7 linked regions of the Homo sapiens genome follow. The protein of the gene in region 1 purifies or fractionates together with the protein of each later gene. This does not show direct contact. Each region holds a gene or a part of one and is shown in the gene's direction. Other genes may lie near its edges. The genes, in order: TCEAL7, HABP4, ZC3H13, ARGLU1, NEMF, C12orf43 and WBP11.

What was found.
Region 2: the proteins of TCEAL7 (region 1) and HABP4 purify together in Homo sapiens (affinity purification with mass spectrometry; one large-scale study listed by BioGRID and IntAct). This does not show direct contact.
Region 3: the proteins of TCEAL7 (region 1) and ZC3H13 purify together in Homo sapiens (affinity purification with mass spectrometry; one large-scale study listed by BioGRID and IntAct). This does not show direct contact.
Region 4: the proteins of TCEAL7 (region 1) and ARGLU1 purify together in Homo sapiens (affinity purification with mass spectrometry; one large-scale study listed by BioGRID and IntAct). This does not show direct contact.
Region 5: the proteins of TCEAL7 (region 1) and NEMF purify together in Homo sapiens (affinity purification with mass spectrometry; one large-scale study listed by BioGRID and IntAct). This does not show direct contact.
Region 6: the proteins of TCEAL7 (region 1) and C12orf43 purify together in Homo sapiens (affinity purification with mass spectrometry; one large-scale study listed by BioGRID and IntAct). This does not show direct contact.
Region 7: the proteins of TCEAL7 (region 1) and WBP11 purify together in Homo sapiens (affinity purification with mass spectrometry; one large-scale study listed by BioGRID and IntAct). This does not show direct contact.

The regions. Positions count from the first base shown.
Region 1 is NC_000023.11:103,328,942-103,332,826, forward strand, and holds TCEAL7 (transcription elongation factor A protein-like 7), read left to right. Parts: upstream 1-1,297; 5' UTR 1,298-1,363; intron 1,364-1,981; 5' UTR 1,982-2,099; intron 2,100-2,435; 5' UTR 2,436-2,462; coding exon 2,463-2,765; 3' UTR 2,766-3,385; downstream 3,386-3,885. UniProt on the Homo sapiens protein: Plays a role in the negative regulation of NF-kappa-B signaling at the basal level by modulating transcriptional activity of NF-kappa-B on its target gene promoters.
Region 2 is NC_000009.12:96,456,669-96,460,168, forward strand, and holds part of HABP4 (intracellular hyaluronan-binding protein 4), read left to right. Parts: intron 1-1,710; coding exon 1,711-1,873; intron 1,874-3,500. UniProt on the Homo sapiens protein: Ribosome-binding protein that promotes ribosome hibernation, a process during which ribosomes are stabilized in an inactive state and preserved from proteasomal degradation.
Region 3 is NC_000013.11:45,969,247-45,972,746, reverse strand, and holds part of ZC3H13 (zinc finger CCCH domain-containing protein 13), read left to right. Parts: intron 1-2,281; coding exon 2,282-2,385; intron 2,386-2,775; coding exon 2,776-3,500. UniProt on the Homo sapiens protein: Associated component of the WMM complex, a complex that mediates N6-methyladenosine (m6A) methylation of RNAs, a modification that plays a role in the efficiency of mRNA splicing and RNA processing.
Region 4 is NC_000013.11:106,551,138-106,554,637, reverse strand, and holds part of ARGLU1 (arginine and glutamate-rich protein 1), read left to right. Parts: intron 1-3,500. UniProt on the Homo sapiens protein: Dual function regulator of gene expression; regulator of transcription and modulator of alternative splicing. General coactivator of nuclear receptor-induced gene expression, including genes activated by the glucocorticoid receptor NR3C1.
Region 5 is NC_000014.9:49,784,186-49,786,788, reverse strand, and holds part of NEMF (ribosome quality control complex subunit NEMF), read left to right. Parts: intron 1-6; coding exon of another isoform or gene 7-38; coding exon 39-71; intron 72-403; exon of another isoform or gene 404-1,199; coding exon of another isoform or gene 1,200-1,209; exon of another isoform or gene 1,210-1,468; coding exon 1,469-1,569; exon of another isoform or gene 1,570-1,653; coding exon 1,654-1,697; exon of another isoform or gene 1,698-1,784; coding exon 1,785-1,864; exon of another isoform or gene 1,865-2,075; coding exon 2,076-2,153; 3' UTR 2,154-2,603. UniProt on the Homo sapiens protein: Key component of the ribosome quality control complex (RQC), a ribosome-associated complex that mediates the extraction of incompletely synthesized nascent chains from stalled ribosomes as well as their ubiquitin-mediated proteasomal degradation.
Region 6 is NC_000012.12:121,006,488-121,009,987, reverse strand, and holds part of C12orf43 (protein CUSTOS), read left to right. Parts: intron 1-3,500. UniProt on the Homo sapiens protein: Plays a role in the regulation of Wnt signaling pathway during early development.
Region 7 is NC_000012.12:14,786,479-14,789,978, reverse strand, and holds part of WBP11 (WW domain-binding protein 11), read left to right. Parts: intron 1-845; coding exon 846-1,028; intron 1,029-2,480; coding exon 2,481-2,914; 3' UTR 2,915-3,500. UniProt on the Homo sapiens protein: Activates pre-mRNA splicing. May inhibit PP1 phosphatase activity.

The DNA.
Region 1 (3,885 bases):
TTCTGACCACTGAACTTTTTTCTGGAGTCATTTATATCAAACTGATTAGTGGTAACTTTATATTCATAATGAGCTGCAATCTTCCTAAAAACAACTTATGAGAAGTTTACACATCTCCCTTTCTATTGCATATATTTCAAGCTAACAAATCAAGAGCAAATCTACTTAGACAAGTACCCAAATCCTTAGCAACAAAAAGTTTAGTGTGTTGGGTGGCTAAATGTGACTAATTTTTGTTAGTACTACAAGTAGCTTTCAATACATCAGTATGGCTAAATAAGGTCATGGAAAACATAAATAGGATGGAGATGTCTAGGGAAAATGAAAAACTATTCTTTTCTGAATGAGAGTGTTGAAAAAAGTTGGGATATTAGGGGTACAGTATTGAAGAAAAAAGGGTTATGTGTATGGTATAAACTGGAAGAAAGAGGGCATGATACTGAGCTCAAACTAGTTAAAATTTGTGACTTACAGTTGCGATCTGGAAATCTAAGGGCAAGGTGCTGTAGGATTATGGTCTCAGTGACTCACCTAATGGAAGGACCTCACATGCCCGGGAGCCCCTCAAAAGAGTAGGTTCCAACTGACCTGTACATCTTAAACTTCAAAAAATATGTCTGCCTAAAGGGTCTATATTTATATTATGACTTCAGCAGCAGAAACAGGTGGCTGGCCTTTTTATCCTCCTATCTGGAATCTTTTTCCAAATGTACATATCTTTATCATATTTCTGATTATTAAAAGTATATAATAAGTTTATGGAAAAATTGGAAAAGAATAAGAAATTATCAAAACAAAAGTAAGAAGCACAATCCAAATCATTACCTCCTTTCCTAATTCACCCCATTCCCTCCAATCTGGTTTCAAGGATTGGACTCCAAGGGAAATGATGGCTATTAGTGGCTGAGAGGCGATTGGATGGAGGAGACTGCCACTTTTCTTTTCTTGTAGCTTAGAAAAGGATAAGTAATCCTCCCTCTCAGCACAACCACAAAAAAAGTAACAATGGTTAATATAACTTTGGGAAAATGCAGCCCCTCCCTGGTAATCAGAGAAAGGCAAATTCTGACCACAGGGAGAAGGCGCCACTTTTGACCTCTGGAATTAGCAAAGACAAAAATGAGTGACAGGGCCTGGTGTGGTGTGGGGTGGGAGGTTGGTAAGCCGGTCCACTTCTGCAGCGCTGCTGGTGGGAGGGGAAAGTGGGGACCAGAGATGGGGGATGACATAATCCTCACGTGATCAGGAGCTGACGTGAACCGAAGTCCTTATATTCCCGGGCTTCTTTCTCCTCTGGGTACCAGCTCCTTACTGCCCTGCAGACAAGCGTGCCGTGCGTGCTTGTGGCCAAGGGAAGGAAGAGGTAAATTCCTTAAATCCCAGCAGGTTGGAGTGAAGGAACCACTGGACCCCCGGGGTCAGTAGTGGGTGAATCTAATGACTGGAATAGGTCCAGACTTGCTTTCCCAAAACCGCTGCAAAATCGTCGGAGATAATTGTATCTTTTGCAGGGGGAAGCAAGGGGGTAGGTCGAAATCTTTTGAGAGACACCTAGAGATTTAGTGACAGCTTTGAAATAATCGGCTTCTCTCACCCTGGCATGCTTTCTTTTTATCCTTCTCCTCATCTTTCTCCAATTTTGTTAAGAGAAAATTTTAGGCCTGGGGTATGTGTTGGTGTGTGGAGAAAGGCTGAAATCCCGGGATGGAGACAACAGAAATTTAGAGATCATTTGAAAATAGTTCACCTCACTCAATGCCGGCCTGTGGTGGTGGGGTGGGGCGCGGGACGGGGCGAAGGAGGGAGACGCGGGCCTTGCAAGGCCCAGGCCTGAGGGTGAGGAGTGGGGAGTGGAAACGGAAATCCTGAAGGAAAGGATACAGACAGGAAGGAGGGGCCAGGAGGTAGAAATCCGGGGGGCGATGACGGTGATGATGAGAATCCCAGGTTCAAAATAATAACGTCTGTCTTGTCTCTGGAGCTGGTTGATCCACAGATAGCTCCTTCCTCCCCGCCCCTTCCTTTTTGTTTGGAGGTCCCAGGATCTGTGTTCACAGACATCTGGGGGAAGAAAAGGAGCAGGAAACTACCCCGCACAGGTCAGTATGAGAGAGGCACTTAGACTGAGATCTCTGAGGATAGGAGTCGGGAAGGGGCAAAAGCTAGGCGAAATTTGCGGCTTCGCAGTCCATCTCCTTTTCTGCTCCGCCTCTCCTGCCTATTGGAGAGGCCATTAGCTTTGTCTGCTGGGGAAACGGTGGGTTCCTGAGGTGGGAGGGGAGAAAAGGGGGAGATGAGAGGGTGGAGGGAACTGCCGCAGACTTATGAGGTCTGGACCTGTGGGGCAGAGATGGGAAAGTATCTTGCCTCAGAGAGAAACTGACAATCGTGATTCAAAAGTAATGAAGCAATTTGTCTTTACATTTTCTCCCTAGAGTTAAGCAGGAAACAACAACAACATCATGCAAAAACCCTGCAAAGAAAACGAAGGAAAGCCAAAGTGCAGCGTGCCAAAGAGGGAGGAAAAACGCCCGTATGGAGAATTTGAACGCCAGCAAACAGAAGGGAATTTTAGACAGAGGCTGCTTCAGTCTCTCGAAGAATTTAAAGAGGACATAGACTATAGGCATTTTAAAGATGAAGAAATGACAAGGGAGGGAGATGAGATGGAAAGGTGTTTGGAAGAGATAAGGGGTCTGAGAAAGAAATTTAGGGCTCTGCATTCTAACCATAGGCATTCTCGGGACCGTCCTTATCCCATTTAATTAATTTCTCTGACAATTCAATTATTTTCTGTTATTAATGTTGCCACTGCTTTCTGTTTGTCTGCACTTTCTTGATAAATATTTGCTATCGTTTTACTCCAGTCATTCGATGTTGCTGAGATTTACATATGACTCTTGTCAACATCTCATCTTTTGACCCAATCTTATTCATTTAATAAGAGGTCTCATTCATTTGCATGGAAAAATGCTCATTGTATATTGCAAAGTGAAAATAACGAGTTGCAAAACAGTGTATACATATATGTGTGTATATATGTACACTTTATTTGTACATTTCTATGTGACATAATGCAAAGGAAAGTGTCTGATTTTATTATACACCAAAGGTTAACAGTGAATCTCTGTGTGATCTCTTTTTTTTTCTTTTTGCCTATCTGCATCTTCTCACTTGCCAAAAAATGAATATATGTTTATGTGTGTATATTACTTGTGTCACAAAAAACCCTAAAGTAGACAGTAAAAGAACTTGTCAATCGCCTTTGGAAGGCAATGAAACACTTAATAAACTCTCAATAACAGAAGCGTAAAAATGAAATGTAAACCTCCAATTACCTCTGGATCTCTTAGCCAGAGTAATAAACTGGTAATTATTACAGATACACACGTTTAAGACTCAGTCTTTTCATAGGGAAAATATTTGCCTCACAGGGCTGCTGTGGGAAGGAAATGAGGCAGTAACCAGCTGTGCTCAGTGGGATCTTGTTCCCCACTGTGCATACAGAATCCCAACCCACTATAGAATACACCAATAACTTCAGAGAGGGCCTGGCATGATTCAACTTGTACTCCGGAACAAGTCCAGTAGGCAGAGGTGGGGGCTTCCCTATCAGTCCTCTGTTATTGAGCCCTGTCTCCTCCCCTGGGTCCTGCCACACCTGCCCAACACTGCTGCCTCTTCTGCTGGGCCCTGTGCTCTCTGCTGGCCCCACTGCTGCTGATGCACTGCAGTCATTCAGGGCCAAAACCCAACCGAATTCCCTGGAGTCGTCAGTGGGTTGAACTCTGACTCTTGTCGTCTAAAGCTTCCTGTGCTTTATAGTGACATTTAACACAGGTGGGACTTCTCTAGGGTTGCTTGGGCCACAATGTCTTTCAGAGC
Region 2 (3,500 bases), on another chromosome or scaffold:
AGAATGGCGTGAACCCGGGAGGCGGTGCTTGCAGTGAGCCGAGATGGCGCCGCTGTACTCCAGCCTGGGCAACAGAGCAAGACTCCATCTCAAAAAAAAAAAAAAAAAAAAAATATATATATATATATATATATATATATATATATATATATATCCATTAACTTGAATAAATGTCATAGCTATACAACTAATGTGGAGAGTAATTTGTACCAAGAAAAATTGAAGCCACTATAGTAAATATTGCACATAGTGAGAGGAGATCTTTTAAATGTATATAAAAAAAGATAGACTTTTTTTGAAGATTAAAGATGTGACAAAGTTCTCCACAATGTATTTACCAAGTATTAGATGGCTTCAAACATAGACTTTGCTTAAGATGTTTAAAGCATTAAAACTAAAGGGGAGTAAAGCAAGGTGACAGGACAGAGGAAAAGACCAGAGTCTCGGCCGGGCACGGTGGCTCACGCCTGTAATCCTGGCACTTTGGGAGGCTGAGGAGACCAGCCTGACCAGGTTAGAGAAACGTCGTCTCTACTGAAAATACAACATTAGCCAGGCGTGGTGGCGCAGGCCTGTGATCCCAGCTAATCTCTACCCGGGAGGCGGAGGTTGCAGTGAGCCGAGATCGGGCCATTGCACTCCAGCCTGGGCAACAAGAGTGAAACTCAGTCTCAAAAAAAAAACACAAGAACAAAACCAGAGTCTGTGGTCCCAGCACAGTGTCCAAGTGCTGGACTGAGTGGACAAAAAGAGATGCCCTCAAGTACTGGCTGACTCTTGGGCAAGTTGCCAAATAGCAGTGTTTGGTTCATATTCAGGAAGTTATAACTGCAAGTCTATATATCTCATAGAATAGCAGGAAAATCTGTTTTCAAAGTAAAAATATAAGCACTACAAACTTTAAAAACAAAAACCTTGGCCAGGCGCTGAGGCTCATGCCTGTAATCCCAGTGCTTCAGGAGGGTGAGGTGGGTGAATTGCTTGAAGCTGGGAGTTCGAGACCAGCCTGGCCAACATGGTGAAACCCTGTCTCTATTAAAAATACAAAAATTAGCTGGGCATGGTGGCACATGCCTGTAATTCCAGCATCTTGGGAGGCTGAGGCATGAGAATTGCTTGAGCCTGGGAGGCGGAGATTGCAGTGAGCCAAGATTAAACAGTGCACTGCACTTCGGGCTGGGTGACAGAGCAAGACTCTGTCTCAAAATAAGTAATTAAGTAAATAAATTAAAAAAATACAAAATAAAAACAAAAACCTTAGTAGCCAGTGATAAGCCATAGTTGCTATGTAATGTGCAGTTGGGATTCTAAAAGTACAGTCTGAAATATAGGGTATTCTTTCATTTTCTAGGTACGGCTTACACACTGTGTTTTTGTAAGACTGCTTTTGTGAACTGTAGCTTATTTAGTAAAATGTACCCATGGCTGTCACAGTTATTGGGAGATGCCTGTAATTATAGGTGAGCTTAGTTGGTCATATACTTTCTAGGATATAGGGAAAGCATGATTTAATAGTAACATCCTATTAAAAAGTAGACTGTGGGCAGTTGTAGTATCAGCAACTTTTTTCTTTGAAGTTTTCTAAACTTCCTGAATTCTCCTATGACGTTGATTTCTAGAAAAATGAAATTTACAAGTACCTGTAAAGTTTAATAGTGTGCTGTTGCAGATGTTGTGTTCCAGCTCTCTGCTTTGATTTTCTGTTGGTAGGCCAGAAGCGGACTCCTAGAAGAGGGGAGCAGCAAGGATGGAATGACAGCCGTGGGCCGGAGGGGATGCTCGAAAGAGCTGAGCGGAGATCCTACAGGGAATACCGACCCTATGAGACAGAGAGGCAGGCAGACTTCACAGCTGAGAAGTTTCCAGATGAAAAGTATGTGCTGCAGTCCTCAGCAGGGCGGGTGGGGAACCAGAAAGGTTTTGAGAAAATGCTACTTTCTTTTTCTTTTCTTTCTTTCTTTTTTTTTTTTTTTTGAGACAGTTTCGCTCTTGTCGCCCAGGCTGGAGTGCAATGGTGCGATCTCGGCTCACTGCAACCTCCGCTCCCGGGTTCAAGCAATTCTCCTGCCTCAGCCTCCCAAGTAGCTGGGATTACAGGCATGTGCCACCACGCCCGGCTAATTTTGTATTTTTAGTAGAGACGGGGTTTCTCCATGTTGGTCAGGCTAGTCTTGAACTCCCAACCTCAGGTGATCCACCTGCCTTGGCCTGCCAAAAGTGCTGGGATTACAGGAGTGAGCCACCATGCCCGGCCCAGAAAATACAACTTTCTACTGGCTACTGCTTTTTGTGGTACCAGTCCTAGGAATGTTTTACTAATTTATGTGCAATTCATGTTACCTTAGATGATGGGAAGGATCTTCCTTTTTCCTCATAGATGCCTTTACGTCTTGGTTCAGGAAATGATTGTACAATTAAAAATGAATTGCTTGTTGGTAACTGAAGAGCACTCTTAAAAAGAAATTACACAGGAGTGTGTTGAACTGGTTTTCTTTTGAAGTTCTAGATTAGAGATATAATTTTGGACTAGGGATATAATTATGGTTTTTGATTTCACATTACCAATTTAGACTGCTCAATGGATTGAAATAAATTCCTAGCTCCACGGTCAGGTCAGTAGGCTGCCATGATGAAATTTGAAGAAGAGTCTGTTATGATGTGTAATACCAATTTCTGGAGGGCATGGCTGCTCTCCGAAGTACTCTAACATGGACAGAAGTCGTGGGCTGGTGGAGTGTTGCGTCGCTGCTTAGTGATGTGGCAGCATGGTGGCCACCGCACTCCACCTCAACACGGGGAGGGGTTGTGTCTTATGTTTGGCACTTGCTGCTTAAAGTCTTTGTTTAATCATTAAACCTGTTTATGTTAAACAGAAACAAGTAGTGAATCACATTTCAAGGAAAATAAAGTTAAACAAGCTAAGGAAGACTAGAATAGTGAACAGTTATATGTCAAGGGAGCCATTTTTCCAAACTCTTTCTGCTTCTTGACTGCTAATTCCATTCCATTTAGGATTCTGGCTACAAGTTTTAACCAAAAAATGTGGCTTTGTAAAACTATACTATAGAGCCTATTAAAAACAAAACAAAACAAAAGTCCAGCAGAGAGTAACTTAGCCTGGGTGGGCTGAGCAGGTGATGACTCATGCAGAACTGTTCACCTGGAAGTTACACATTCAAGACATTGAGATAGTCTATCTGCAACCATGTTGGAGGGAGAAACTTACAGAAAGCCTTAATTTTGCACCTTTTTTGGTGATTACTTCAAATCTGCTGTGTAGTAAGCACAGTCTCCTTGTTTCTGCAAAGCTTCTTGTAGCAGAGCTGCTTATTTTTGGAAGCATTTGGGTATTTATTTTCCCCTCACTTTAGGGATTCTGTGGAAATGAGGAAATTATAGTTCACTTGCACAAACCCATGTTTCCCCCCTTTTTTAGTAGCAAGACTGTGTAGTCTTTAAAAAGGATAAAATAGATCTTTATATGTGACATGAAAAAATAG
Region 3 (3,500 bases), on another chromosome or scaffold:
AAATAGGCCAGTTATTGATGGGAGAGGAGCTTTGGATAAAGTAGTACACAAGCTTGGGCCTGTGAGTTGTCATATTACACCTGGGGCCTTCTCCACATGGTTGTTCATCTATATAAAGGAGCTGTCTATGATATACATGTGCTGGTATGTTTTTGTTTTATTTTTATTTCAATAGCTTTTAGGGTACAAGAGGTTTTTGGTTACCTGGATGAATTCAGAGATTTTAGTGCACCTGTCACCTGAGTAGTCCACATTGTACCAAACATGTACGTTTTTATCCCTCACTCCCCTTCCACCCTCCCCCTTCTGAGTCTCCAAAGCCCATTATATCACTCTGTATGCCTTTGCATACTCATAGCTTAGCTCTCACTTACAGGTGAGAACAAGTTGCTGCAAAAGACATTATTTTTTTCCTTTTTATGGCTGAGTAGTAGTCCATGGTTTCATGGTGTATATATACCACATTTTCTTTATCCACCCATTGGCCAATGGGCACTTAGGTTGGTTCTATATCTTTACAGTTGTGAATTTTGCTGCTATAAACATATATGTGCATGTTTTTTTTTTTCATATAATGACTTCTTTTCCTTTGGGTAGATACCCAGTAGTGGGATTGCTGGATCAAATATCTCCTTTTAGTTCTTTAGGGACTCTCCATACTGTTTTTCATAGAGGTTGTACTTATTTACATACCCACCAGCAGTGAATAAGCATTCCCTTTTCACCATGTCTATGCTAACATCTCCTGTTTTTTTTACTTTTTAATGGCCATTTTTGTAGGAGTAAGGTGGCATCTCATTGTGGTTTTTAATTTGTATTTCCCTGATGATTAGTGATTTTGAGCATTTTTTCATACGTTTGTTGGCTGTTTGTATGTCTTCTTTTGAGAAATGTCTATTCGTGTCCTTTATCCACTTTTTGATGGGATTATTTATGTTTTTCTTGCTGATTTATTTGAGTTTCTTATAGATTCTGGATACTAGTCCTTTGTTGGATACATAGTTTGCAAACATTTTCTCCCATTCTATGGGTTGTCTTTGTTATTTATTTTGCTGTGCAGAAGCTTTTTAGTTTAATTAGGTTCCATTTATTTATTTTTGGTTTCGTTGCGTTTGCTTTTAGAATCTTGGCCATGAAGTCTTTGCCTAGGCCAGTGTCCAAAAGAGTTTTCCCAGTGTTAATTTCTAGAATTTTAATGGTTTCAGGTTTTAGATTTAAGTCTTTGATCCTTCTTGAGCTGATTTTTGTTTGAGCTGAGAGGGATCCGGTTTCATTCTTTTACATGTGACTTGCCAATTTTCCCACCACCATTTAGTAAATAGAGTGTCCTTTCCCCAGTTATGTTTTGTATGCTTTTGCTGAAGATCATTTGGCTTTATTTCTGGGTTTTCTATTCTGTTCCATTGGTCCATGTATACAATATGTTTCTTAACTTTTGACCATAGTATTTATAAACAAACAATGTTAGTGAAAAAACAGGTAGTCAAATTTTAATGAAAATGGGGGAAAACACTAGAATAATTTAAGTACCCAAGAGATATAAAACGCTACTCATTTAAAGCTCAACTAAGGAACAAAAAATATAATGAACGTATGAATTATTTTATTAATTTGTCAGCAAGAAAGTGATTTCCATGAAGGGGAAAGGAACTAATTTTATGGTGTACCCACAACATATTTGGCACTGGGTTTATGACATAACTAATTTATTCCTTACTGCAATTTTATGAAATGGACTCTCATTTCCCACCCATTCAGCCCCACCCACCATTTTCAGATGAGAAACTAAGGTTCAGTGACTTCAAGGAACTTACTTAAGGCTGCGTAATAACTAATGTAGTTATAAGTTGAACTCATAGCTTTTTTACTTCAAAGCCAATATTAGGTTTTCTCATTCAGCTCTGCAGCATAAGGCATTTTTATATCATAAGAATGCAAAATTGCTGAATGTTTATATCAGAGGGTACATTAATATATTGGTTTCTGTGCTGCATGTTACCACCTTACAGTATTTAAATCTGGCAATTTTCACTTGAGTTATTCTACATGTATAATGAAGAAGAAGAAGAAATGTTGTGTATTTTAAGTTCACAATTCTTAGCAAATGAAGTAAAGAATTTGTATTAAAGACACTGAATATCCTTTGTATGATACACTCTGGCAATATTGCTTTCCTACAATTATATGTTCCAGTTATAGTAAAGAGATACTAGTAAAAACAAAAAAATCTCTTTTTTTGCCCCCTAGAATTTTATAAATTGTGTTTGCTTGTCCAATTTAGGAAGCGCTATAGAAATGAAGGGAGTCCCAGCCCTAGACAGTCCCCGAAGCGCCGGCGTGAACATTCTCCGGACAGTGATGCCTACAACAGTGGAGATGATAAAAGTAAGCAGACTCTGTTTTCTGTCTCTCTATATTCATATTCATTTGTAACCATGAAACCATCCTTTCATACTAGTAGGAACTGATGAATTAAGATTTTTAAAAAGTTGTCTTGCTTTGCTGCCTCTAAATATCTCCTTTTGTGACTAAAGTATGTGTTAGAGTACTGTCATTTTCTACTATTTATAGTAAAGCCATATTTTTATTTTTACTAAAATTATTGTCATTTTAAAAGTTTTTAAATGATCTTGATCTCTTGATCTCATGATCCACCTGCCTCGGCCTCCCAAAGTCCTGGGATTACAGGTGTGAGGAGAAATTATTATAATCTATATGTACCATGCAGTGGTTACTAACCTGGTGAGAGTGTGATTGCTTTTATCTTTTATATAGATGAAAAACACAGACTCTTGAGCCAAGTTGTACGACCTCAAGAATCTCGTTCTCTTAGTCCCTCGCACCTCACAGAAGACAGACAGGGTAGATGGAAAGAGGAGGATCGTAAACCAGAAAGGAAAGAGAGTTCAAGGCGCTACGAAGAACAGGAACTCAAGGAGAAAGTTTCTTCTGTAGATAAACAGAGAGAACAGACAGAAATCCTGGAAAGCTCAAGAATGCGTGCACAGGACATTATAGGACACCACCAGTCTGAAGATCGAGAGACATCTGATCGAGCTCATGATGAAAACAAGAAGAAAGCAAAAATTCAAAAGAAACCAATTAAGAAAAAGAAAGAGGATGATGTTGGAATAGAGAGGGGTAACATAGAGACAACATCTGAAGATGGTCAAGTATTTTCACCAAAAAAAGGACAGAAAAAGAAAAGCATTGAAAAAAAACGTAAAAAATCCAAAGGTGATTCTGATATTTCTGATGAAGAAGCAGCCCAGCAAAGTAAGAAGAAAAGAGGCCCACGGACTCCCCCTATAACAACTAAAGAGGAATTGGTTGAAATGTGCAATGGTAAGAATGGTATTCTAGAGGACTCCCAGAAAAAAGAAGATACAGCATTCAGTGACTGGTCTGATGAGGATGTCCCTGACCGTACAGAGGTGACAGAAGCAGAGCATACTGCCACCGCCACGACTCCTGGTAGTACCCCTTCTCCTCTATCTTCT
Region 4 (3,500 bases), on another chromosome or scaffold:
TGGGATTACAGGCGTGAGCTACCGCGCCCGGCCAAGAAAAGTTTTTTATTTGGTTCTGTTGGTAGTCATATGCTGGCAGGAAAAGTAGGGTATTCTTTGTGTAGGAGGAGACAAAAAATGTATAAAGATGGCACGGTACACGTTGAGGCCCACTTCCACTTTTATTGCCTTTTTCCTTCCCCTTCCTCTCAATTTTGAGCACTATTCTTTAATCTTTATGTATGTTTATTGGGAAATATGTAAAATACATTCAAACTCCTATTAAAAGTACTTGATACCATATAAAGCAAGAAGAATGAGAAGCATTCTGGCCTCTAGAAAGTGATGAATGATGAAGGGTGATCAAAGGTAACTGTTTGCTAAAATCTATATTGAGAAAAACAACTGGATGGAAAAGTAGACAAGCCATTAAGTGCTTTAAAATAATTTAACATATTTTGGAAACAAAGACAACTCCAAAAAAAGTTACTAATACCATGGAAATATTTGGTAAGTGGTATAGGTAATGTAAGATAATGACATAGTTGCCCTGGGTGGCCTCGGAAACCTTCCTAGAAGAGGTAGTCCCTTGAGCTGGGCCCTGATGGGTAGGTGGAAATTCTATTAGGAGGTAGACAAGAGTGTGAGGAAATGAAACAGGGCAAAGGCCTTTGGGGTAGTAGAATAAAACAAAGGCTAGGGTGTGGAAACTTGGGATATTGGAAGAAGGAGCTATAGTAAAGTAGCAGCCATCCAACTTTATGTATGCTAAGAAGTTTGTGTGGAAAGTGGATTATAGAAAAGACAAGTTGATAATGAAAGTACCTTGGAAGTGGGGAGGGAGATTTCTTAAACATTTTAACTGAAAAAATAATACAATGATGTTACAGATCAGTAAAGAAGACTAACTTCCTAATTAAAAAGGATATTTGTACACAAGTAGGACAAGAAGCAACTACAATACATTTCTGAAAATATATCTCAACCTCAGAGAAACAAAGAAATGTCCCCCTCTTTTCTTTTTCCTTAATAGAAATCCCCTAAAGCCATTGTTTTTCATAGTGTCCTGTGTTGGCGGGTTATTATACAGATACCTCTTTACCTGATGATCATGAGAATTTAAATGGGTATAACAGTTTCCAAAGACAATTAACAGTAAATCAGTAAATATAAAAAACTTTAATTCTGTGTCTAAGAATTTATCTCATGAGATAGAATCATTTACAAATGAATTTATGTACAAAGATACTCTCAAATTATTTAAAATAGAAATGTCCAAGTTGTTGGATTCATTATTATTACACAGTGGGTTTTTCTGTAGCCAAAAAGTATTTGATAATTCAGGGGAAATACAAAATAGGAGGTAGCTAAATACAAAATTTATATATCCAATATGATCCTTTTATTTTGAGAAACATATACTTGCACATTTTAAGAGACAGAAAAATAAGCCAAAATGCTAAAAATAGTTATCCTTAATTGGTAGTCTTACGTGTAACTTTATACTTTTCTTCAGTTTCTACATGCTACAAGTAATGTATATCACTTTTTTTTATCACATAGAAATACTAGTAAAGAAGTTAAAGTCATACTTTTGACTTTTAAGTAGCCTTTTGTGACACAAGTTCACAGATTGAATCCCGTAATGACTAATAAGGAATGTGTTAGCCTAGCCACACGAGCTCATCCATATGTGAAAATCATTAAGTGCTCTAATCCATGGGTAGTTACTGTTTTTTTCAGTTCCACATTGTGTACCAAGATATTTGGTTTGTCAACAGAGACAAAAGTATTAACCAACAAACATACTTTATTTACAAAGTAAAAGCATCCAAATATGACTTGACTTGGCTTTTTGGCAGATTGTTCTTTGTTCTTGAGTTAGTGTTGGCGACACATAACTATCTTTAGGTATTTGAAGGGTTAATACAATGGAAAATTTTAATTTTCTTTTGTTAAAAATAATGCTTAAAATTTTTTGAAGTCTTCATGGTGTTTTTATGATGTGCCTGGGAAAATCTCAGATACTGTTCTGAAATGTATATGAATTTTACTTTTTTGGAGAGGGAAACAGACTTAAAAATTGGGGATAGATTTTGCTATAGAATAAAATACTCTTCCAGAAGGTTGTGTCAGCAGAAGGAAGAAACTCTCAATCTATACCCTTGTCAAGATTGTAAAATACAAACCGTACAACCTGGCTAGTGAATCTGGTGTAAACGCCTAAACTATAATAATAGATTGATAGATTGATAATTTCTAATAAAATTTTAGGTAACATACTGGTCAAAGGAAGGACAAATTACTTTTGATGGGAGATGGGGGTGTTTGGGGTTTTAAAGTATATGCAAGTTATAAATTCTAGATTTACAGATCTCTTTACTAATGAAATAGTTTTCTTCTCACCCCTTGCCAAGTTCATCGTGTTATACCACTTTGTATCTCACCAGTTTGTTATCTCAGCAGTTTGAGAGAAGAAAAGATATGCCATGTTTGAAAGTTGCTTATATATCAAATGTGTACCACATACATAAGTTTGAAATAAACCAGAGTTTGCTTTGCGAGATGGCTTTCTTTTAAATGAGTTTGTATGATAGGCTGAAAAATCCCTTCTGTCCTCTCTCCATGAAAAACAATCTGTATTCTAGTGCCTGGAATTTGAATGTGCCCATATATGACAAGGAGGGCGGGGCTTTTGCAGATGTGATTAAGTATCTTGCAATGGGGAGTTTATTCTGGATTATCTGGTGGGCCTTAAATGCCATCACATGTTTTCTTAGAGAGGCAGAGGGAAATTTTAGCATATAGCACAGACAGGAGAAGGAAGCTAAGTAAAGACAGAGGAGAGAGATTTGGAAATGTTGGCGTTGAAGATTGAAGTGATGTAGGCTGAAGCCAAGGAATCCTCGCAGCCACCAGAAGCTGTAAGAGACAAGGAGCAGACTCTCCGCTAAAGACTCCAGAAGGAGAATGGACACCCTTCTGACACCTTGCTTTCAGCCCAGTGATACTGATTTCAGACTCCTGGCCTCCAGAATAAATTTATTTTGAGCTGTTTAGTTTGTGGTAATATGTTACCTAAAAATGTGGAAGTGGTTTTGGAATTGGACAGTGGGTAGAGGCTCCAGTTTTGAGTCACATGATAGAAAATGCATATGTTGCCTTTAAAGACTGTTGGCAAAAATATGGATTTTAAAGGTGCTTCTGGTTAGGGCTCAGAAGCAAATTAGGAACATATAAACTGGAGGGAAAGAGATCCTTTCTATAAGTGATAGAAAGCTTGGCTGAATTGTGTCCTACAGTTGTATATAAGGCAGAACTTAAAACTTTTTCATATTTAGCTGAGAATTCTAAGTAAGTGTTGAAGTTGCAGCCTGGTTTCTTCCTGTTTATAGTAAAGTGGCAAGAAAAGCTAAATTGAAGAATGAACTGATAAGTATAGAAAGAACCACCAGCACTGGATGTTGGGAATATCTCAGGCTACTCAGATGGCAAAAGGTGTTCACTGTTAGAAAAACTGT
Region 5 (2,603 bases), on another chromosome or scaffold:
TTATAGCTGACATTTTTATTTTTATATGTTCGGAACAGGAAGAGCAAGATCTGGATCAACAGGGAAATGAGGTATGATTTTATGTTGGGGTTCCTACTACAACACTGTGATTACAATTCAGTTCCCAGAATGTTTGAAACACAACTTATTAAAACTTAGAAACCTAAGACAAGACTGCAGGCTACGAAGTCAAACTTTCGGGGTCTTAATCCCAACTCTGCTATATGTAACTGTACAAACTTGGAAACATTCTTTGTGCCTCAGTTTCCTCATCTGAAGAATGGGGATAATGTCCCTACCCAGGAGAGGGTTGTTTTGATAACTAATGTATGTAAAGGGCATTTAGAAAAGTTTATGGCACATAGCAAACACTCAAATATTAATTATACTTCAGCACCAAGCATTCTGTCCTAAATCTAAGTTTATTCATATTGTAAAATAAATGGGGGCAATCTCACAGGCAGCACAGCAAATAAGAACTCTGGGATTTCTCCTTAATAATGGGTAAGAGAGAAGGCTGTTCTAGCCCAGGGTTTCTCAACTTTGGCACTATTAACATTAGGGGTTGGTTAATTCTTTGTTGTGGGGTCTGTCCCATTCATTATAAAATGTTTAGCGACATCCTCGGCCTTTACCCACTAGATCCCAGTAGCAGCCCCTACCTATTCCTTCTCACCCCTCATCGTGTCAACGAAAACTATCTCTAGACATTGCCCATTGTCTTCTGAGGGCAGAATCTCCCCAGGACGAGAAATAGTGGTATAGCCAAGGTATTAGTCCCATTTCCATGTGATAGGACTTAAATCTATTTGTGGTTATTATTGCATCATTTTAATCCACAGCAGGTTTCTGCAACTCAGGTAATATCCAATAGTTTTTTTCCTTTTTTTTTTTTTTTTGAGACAGGGTCTCTGTCACCCAGGCTGGTGTCACCCAGTGCAGTGACAGGATCATGGCTCTCCACAACGTCTACCTCCTGGGCTCAGGTGATCCTCCCCCCCTCAGTCTTCCGAGTAGCTGGGACTACAGGCACCCACTATACCCAGCTAACTTTTATATTTTTTGTAGAGATGGTGTTTCTCCATGTTGCTTAGGCTGGTCTTGAACTCCTGGGCTCAAGCGATCCACCCGCCTCAGCCTGAGCCTTCCAGAGTCCTAGGATTATAGGCGTGAACCACTGCTCCTGGGCCTTCTTTCTCTTAAATGTAACTGTAGGTAGGATTTTGAAAATTATTGTTCTCATTACTTATTATGCTAGGCAAAAATTAAGTAGTAAAGAATATATTTAAACATTGGTCTTCAACTCTTTGGAACTATGAAGCAGAGTTTAAGTACCACTGTTCCAGCTTAGATGGTATGTATATCAGGAAAAGATAAAAAATATGTTGAGATACTAATTCAAGTGTTTTAGCATTTTTTGTAAAGGGCGGTATAAATTGCCTTTGTAACTGTTATTTTCCCTTTTTAGGAAAACCTATTTGATTCTTTGACAGGCCAGCCACATCCTGAAGATGTACTACTGTTTGCCATTCCAATATGTGCCCCTTACACCACCATGACAAACTACAAGTAAGTTACCATTAGTTGACAGAATGGCTTTTGTGAATTGTTTTGTAACGTCTATTTAGTAACACATGTAATTCCTTTTTAAAGATATAAAGTGAAACTTACTCCTGGAGTGCAGAAAAAGGGAAAAGGTATTTAAATTTGTTTTTTTGAATTATGATTTTAAACAGTTCAGTGACTTAACAGTAGATTATTCTTACTCTTTTTTGTATTTACAGCTGCAAAAACAGCCTTGAATAGTTTCATGCATTCCAAAGAAGCAACAGCAAGAGAAAAAGACTTATTCCGCAGCGTAAAGGTAAAGTTCTCCTTCAGAAAAGGAATGTGGAGACTGACAGTACAATTTAAAATGTTAGCAGTTTTTTGTTATTTTAGTAGAAAATGCTGTCTTATTAGAAGCAGTAAAACCATCTCAGCTAAAAGTTTGGAAATGTTTTTCGTTTTTGTCATAAAAGAAACATGATTGACCATACAGGATGTGAAGATATTCAGCAATTTTCTTTTTTTAGGACACAGATTTATCAAGAAACATTCCTGGCAAAGTGAAAGTGTCTGCACCCAATCTTCTGAACGTAAAAAGGAAATAGCTGAAATGAAATTCTAAAATATTTGAGAAGAGCCAATTTTATAGCCTTTTGGAAGTTCAAAGATGAAAGCACCATGTATCAGGATTTCCGCATTATAAAAATGAACTAAACATTGCCTTGCTATATTCACCAAAAGGACTTACTTCTTGTTTTTTCCCAGTTTTATATAGAGGAAACACTGTCTATGATAGGATTTCCAAAAGTATTTGTGGACAGTTAAATGCTAATTAATATACATCTGTAGTTATTCTACATTTTCTTGAAATTTGGGAGGTTAATACCAAGTATTCATTTCATGATGTAAAGAAACTGAACAGTGAAGTGGCTTGATTGCTTAAACTATTGACTTGGTAAGTCTACTGTATATAACATCTAATATATATATTACAGGCCAAATGAACTAAACATTGCCTTGCTATATTCACCAAAAGGACTTAATTCTTGTTTTTT
Region 6 (3,500 bases), on another chromosome or scaffold:
CAACCATGAGAGTAAGAGAGGAACATCGAGAAGCTCATTCCCGCCACAAGAGGGCAAGGAAGGACCGTGTTCCTATTTCTTGGGTGCCTTCTGTATGCTAGACACTGTGCCAGGTCTCTATCTTACATTCTCAGCACAGGTTGATAACCCAGTCGGTAAGGATTCAGGTTGGCATTCCTAAAGTAGGTGTCAAGGATACAACCTGTTTGAGTCCATATGGGCTGCTATAACAAAATAACATAAACTGGGTAGCTTATAAACAAAATAAATGTATTTCTCACATTTTGGAGGCTGAGAAGTCCAAGATCAAGGCACCAGCAGATTCAGTGTCTGGGGAGAGCCCTCTTCCCAGTACAGATGGCGCCTTCCTACTGTGTCCTCACATAGTGGCATGGGCGAGGGGTCTCTCTCAGACCTTTTTTATAGGAGCAGCAATTTCATTCATCAAGGCTCCACCCTCCCGACCTAATCACCTCTCAAAGGCCCCCATCTCCTAATCCTAATACCTTGGGTTGAGGATTTCTCTTTTTCTTTTCTCTTTTTGGAGACAGAGTCTCCCTCTGGAGCACAGTGGCGTGATCTCGGCTCACAACAACCTCCAGTTCCTGGGTTCAAGCGATTTTCATGCCTCAGCCTCCTGAGTAGCTGGGGTTACAGGTGCGCACCCACCACGCTTGGCTAATTTTTTGTATTTTTTGTATTTTCAGTAGAAATGGGTTTTCATTATGTTGGCCAGGCTGGTCTCGAACTCCTGACTTCAAGTGATCCACCGGCTCGGCCTCCCAGAGTGCTGGGATTGCAGGTGTAAGGCACCATGCCCAGCTGGGGTGAGGATTTCACCATAAGAATTTGGGGAGGACACAAACATTTGGATTCTAGCACTAGCCCAAAGCGTGGCTTTAGAAAAAAGGAGGTCCAACAGCAAAGAAGCGTGAGAAACACTGCAATCTACATACCTCCACGTGTCCTTGCAGACTGCAAGCCAGAGTAGTATATTCAAGGCTCTGAGAATTCCTGTAGTGAAGAGACCTGTGTAACTGTTTAGCCCAGCATTTTCCAAACTTGTTTGGCCACAGTGCCTTTGTTTCATGGAAAACCAGTCAACAACCTGCGGAACAGGTCTGGGGATACACTGGTCTAGATCTGTTCCTGACTGGCAGAGCCCTGGCAGGGTTTTGAAAGGGAGATGAGGCAGGATTTGGGGCCATTGTCATTCCATTCAAAGTAGATATCAAAAAGGACAAATGAGCCTTCCCAAAGTGTGAACCAGCTATTCTTCTGAGACAGAATGATGGGCCAGAGCCCCGCAGCCTGAATCCCACAGGGTTCCCCTCAATTGGAGAAAGTAGAGGAGGTGTTTAGGAAGGCAGCTGCATTTCAGCCTGTGGGAGCAGTTTTCCTTTGTGACTCTCTGGCTTCAGGCTGAACAGGGCCTGCTTGGCATTGCACTGAGTCACAGAGATGTTTCTGCAGTAGAAATGCCAGTCAGCCATGGTTAGAATATTCCCTGCAGCATTTTCATGTTTCTCCAAAGAAATCTAAATGATACCTTAGGCCAGGCGTGGCAGCTCATGCCTCTGATCCCAGCACTTTGGGAGGCTGAAGCGGGTGGATCATTTGAGGACAGGAGTTCGAGACCAGCCTGGCCAACATGGTGAGACCCCATCTCTACTAAAAATGCAAAAATTAGCTGGGCATGGTGGCGTGCACCTGTTATCCCAGCTACTTGGGAGGCTGAGGTAGGAGAATCGTTTGAACCCAGGATGCAGAGGTTGCAGTGAGCTGAGATCGTGCCACTGCACTCCAGCCTGGGTGACAGAGTGAGATCCCATCTCAAAAAAAAAAAAGGAAATGTAAATGATACTGCATTTGGTCCCTAGTGTTAGGTCAGTGTCTCTCAACCTTGGCGCTACTGACATCTTTGACTAGCATTTGTCGTGGGGGTCTATCCTTCTTCTTCCCATTATAGGATGTTTACCAACATCCCTGGCCTCTACCTACTAGATGATAGTAGCACTCACCCCACCAGTTGTGACATCCAAAAATGTCTCCAGACATTGCCAAATGCCCCTGATGGCCACCATTGAACCACTGTGTGGGGTCAAGAACAGGTGCCTGGGTGGCATCATCTCTACTCCCTCTCCCCGGGTTGCTTTTCCTGAACAGGGCTTGGGGGGCACCTTTGGCATACAGGAAGGGAGGTTAGGGAAAGCACCCAGGGCATTGCTGCGTCTGCCTCGAGGGCATTGCTGAGAGCCTTGTTCTCTGCTGTGCACAGTGGCATCTCCATCTGCACTCACCAGACACATGCTTCCTGGCCTTGTGCCTCTAGAGAAATGTGGTTTATTTTTATGTTAGAGAGCCTGTGAAGGCTGAAGCTTTTCTTGATGACAGTCATCATCTGCATCGTCATCATAGCTACCATTTGCTGAGCAGCTACTTGTGGCTAGGCCGTGTGCCACAAGTGCTTGATATCCATTTTCCCCTTCAATCCTTGTGACAACCTTAAGAGGTAGGGACCTTCATCGTTCCCACTGCACAGGTGGATAACAGAGACTCAGAGAGATAAAGTCATTTGCTTAAGGGACATAGCTAATAAGTGACAAAACCGGGATTCAAAACCCAGGTCTCTGAAGTCTGAATGAGGTCCATGAATTGGATCAATTTGCATTTCCTAGTTGTGATGTTGTACTATAGCGAGGCACAATGTTACCATTGCGAGAAAATGGATGGAGGGTCTATGGAACATCTGCATTATTTGTTGCTACTGCATGTCTACAATTATCTCCAATTTCTTTTAATTAAAAAAAAAAATTTAAAAACAGGTCTGCCCTGCTCCAGAAGCTGTCCTCTGAACCAGTTTTCTAGATTGGTCATATTTCCCTTTTCATGCTTGCTGCTAGGAAGCTCAGAGCAAAATGTATGCCCTCTCTCTAACAAGTGTATAGGACTTCCTGACTACACTTCTAGGTCTTTCTGTTCCTCTTGCCCTTATATCTCTTTGTCCTATTTGAAATTGCATTCATTTTGTTAAATTCTTTTCTTTTTTTGGAGATGGAGTCTTGCTCTGTCACCCAGGCTGGAGTGCAGTGGCGCAGTCTCAGTTCACTGCAAGCTCCGCCTCCCAGGTTCACGCCATTCTCCTGCCTCAGCCTCCCGAGTAGCTGGGACTACAGGCGCCCGCCACCATGCCCGGCTAATTTTTTGTATTTTTAGTAGAGATGGGGTTTCACCGTGTTAGCCAGAATGGTCTCGATCTCCTGGCCTCATGATCTGCCTGCCTTGGCCTCCCAAAGTGCTAGGATTACAGGCGTGAGCCACCATGCCTGGCCTCATCTTGTTTTACTATGTCTTTAAAACTTCTTCAACACTTACTGGAATAAAGTGGGCTTTAAAGAAATGAAGCACTGCAGTTCGCGTGGCAGAGGCTGGTCAGCATGTTATAACCAGACCATCAGCCCTCTTACTAGGCCAGCACGCTTTCGCTTTTGCATTTACAA
Region 7 (3,500 bases), on another chromosome or scaffold:
AAAGTATAAAAAGATTATTTATGAAATGAAGCAACAGAGAACTTTTCAGCTATTTGTGATTTTAGTCCTTCATCCTATTGTCAGCCTACTAAGTTTTCTTCAGTTGAGCTAATCATTTTCCGATTGGTGCAAAGCAAAGTTACCTATTTTATGTCATTCTTAGTGGTCTTTGTCTATATATTCATGAGTTTCAAGGGGTCCTTAAAGCATTGTGTTTTATATTCCATTTTCAGCTTATACTGGAACCATTTAAGAATTCTTATCACCTTTGTATATTTCCAACATTGCGGAGCTGTGATTGAATATGCTTTTTGTCAGTGTTGGGAAATAAAGTGAAAAGATCCACAACAAATCCAGTACCATTTTTCTGGTGCTCAGATATATTTTTTTTTTTAAGACGGAGTCTTGTTCTGTCACCCAGGCTGGAGTGCAATGGCGCAATCTCAGCTCACTACAAGCTCCGCCTCCCGGGTTCACACCATTCTCCTGCCTCAGCCTCCCAAGTAGCGGGGATTACAGGTGTCTGCCACCATGCCCGGCTAATTTTTATGTATTTTTAGTAGAGATGGGGTTTCACCATCTTGGCCAGGATGGTCTTGAACTCCTGACCTTGTGATCCACCCACTTCAGCCTCCCAAAGTGCTGGGATTACAGGCATGAGCCACCATGCCCGGCTGTACTCAGATATTTATTGAATGAATTCTGTTTCCATGTATGTTTCATTAACTTCTTGAAGTTAATCTGATTTCAGGTTAAAGTCAAACCATATTTGAGTTACTTTTAAGCCATAATTATTACTTAGTGTACATTTGTGTGACATTAATTTATCATTTTTCTCTTTTCAGGAGCTCCTCCATTCCTGAGACCACCTGGAATGCCAGGACTCCGAGGGCCCTTACCCCGACTTTTACCTCCAGGACCACCACCAGGCCGACCCCCTGGCCCTCCCCCAGGTCCACCTCCAGGTCTGCCTCCTGGTCCCCCTCCTCGTGGACCCCCACCAAGGCTACCTCCCCCTGCACCTCCAGGTGATGCTTTCAATTTCTATAATAAAAACTTAGCCTGCTGTTTATTTAATTTGCTCTAAGACATATGGTCACATTTCAGTATTCTGAAATCTGAGGTCATCTTACAGTCAGTGGTGGTTTTTAAGTTGCCGTTGACCTGGCTTGAAGTACAGTTCTTCCAGTGGGTATTTGCACTTGGTTCACTTGAGGAACTTGTAGCCAGAGAACATGGGATTAAATTCTCTATTTGATAATTTTTTGGTTTTAGTTGTAGTTACGAAGCCGTTTCATGCATCTGCATGAGTACCAACTTAAAGTTTAAAATTAGAGTGTTTTTTTCCCTTACCTCTACCTAATGTCAAGGTTAGACATGCAGATTTTCTTGTGGGCTTGTTTTATGTGGTAGGTATATTTCTAGTTTACAACACTGAAATGTCCCAGTTTCATGTGAATATCTGCTTTTCAGTGCCCCAGCTGGGGCTTTTTTTCCTCTCTCTCTCTCAGTGGTACACAGAATAATTATGAGTTTGTAATCAATAGGATCTTAGATTTGATAAAATGTACTTAATATTTCATTTAAAAGTGGTATTTGAAGAACTGAAATCTGCAGTTCTTGGTATATGAATATTGTGTATGTCTGAACTGTCCATAGGACATGAGTTCTTTTCCAGTAATGATGACAGATTGTGATTAGTTGCATTCTCTTACTCCATGTGCATTGTTTTTTTCTTTGAGACGGAGTTTCATTCTTCTTGCCCAGGCTGGAGTGCAATGGCGCGATCTGAGCTCACTGCAACCTCCGCCTCCTGGGTTCAAGCAATTCTCCTGCCTCAGCCTCCCAAGTAGCTGGGATTACAGGCGTGCACCACCACGCCCAGCTAATTTTGTATTTTTAGTAGAGACAGGGTTTCATCATGTTGGTCATCAGGCTGGTCTCGAGCTCCTGACCTCAAATGATCCACCCGCCTCAGCCTCCCAAAGTGCTGGGATTACAAGTGTGAGCCACCATGCTCGGCCTCCGTATGCATTTGATGACCAGGGTTAAAATTTTATTTCCTGCCCATTGACCTTTTTGTGCAGGGGAAATGGTATGGAATATAATGCATGGGGATCAGTCTCCTGACCTTGTCCTTACTAATACCTGCACTATGCAGCTGGAATAGAACCTTGGGATGTGAGATTTGAGATAGTAATTTGAAACCAGTTGATGTCCCTTTATATTTTAAAGTAGGATGTTATTTAGAGAAGAAGAGAACATAATACTGTAAGTACAGGAATATAGGCTGAAGGTAAATACTGTTTTATAATAAAATATTCCTGAGTTTCAAATAGCAACCAATATGAATTCAGCTTATTTTCTGTAAGTTGTTATCCATTTATTTAAAAATTGGCAACCAATATTTAAATGTCCTTAATAGTAGTTAAATTTTATTAGTTCTTACAGTATTCATCTTGCCTATTTTATTCATTTAGGTATTCCTCCACCTCGTCCTGGCATGATGCGCCCACCTTTGGTGCCTCCCCTTGGACCTGCCCCCCCTGGGCTGTTCCCACCAGCTCCCTTGCCAAACCCTGGGGTTTTAAGTGCCCCACCCAACTTGATTCAGCGACCCAAGGCGGATGATACAAGTGCAGCCACCATTGAGAAGAAAGCCACAGCAACCATCAGTGCCAAGCCACAGATCACTAATCCCAAGGCAGAGATTACTCGATTTGTGCCCACTGCACTGAGAGTACGTCGGGAGAATAAAGGGGCTACTGCTGCTCCCCAAAGAAAGTCAGAGGATGATTCTGCTGTGCCTCTTGCCAAAGCAGCACCCAAATCTGGTCCTTCTGTTCCTGTCTCAGTACAAACTAAGGATGATGTCTATGAGGCTTTCATGAAAGAGATGGAAGGGCTACTGTGACAGCTTTTGATGCCAGAAAAGGCTTCTGTTCACAACAGTGGCCCATGGAGAAAGAGGCTCTTATTAAACTTAGATGAAAGAGCTGCTTCCATTGTCAGGGTATTTTCTAATTTCAGTTCAAGGAATATCCTAAAATTTAGCCTTGTTCAGAATTTACTGCACATAAAAAAGGGTATTTCATCCAGAATAGATCAGTTATTGAAGCAGTGCTGCTAACATCCATTCCCTTTCATACCACCATTTTCACCCTGTTTCTTCCCCTCCTCCAGTTCTTTGGAAATTTGTGATCGGGGGATCTTAGTTGCTTATTTGTTTTGACTCTTGTGTGCTGTGGGCACTGGAGTAGAGATTTCTGGAGAAAAAAAAACAGTTTATTTCATCTTGCCTTTTGTGTTTGAGTTATTTTTAATATTTTCCTGTAAATATTTTGTAATATTTTACTTGTAATGAAATGGATCACAATGTCATTTCCTAATACAAGGCAGGATATGTGGGAAGAATATGTACAATTATTTGATTAAAATTATTTCCCACTGACCTAAACTTTCAGTGATTTGTGGGAAAAATAAATAAATGTTCTACACCA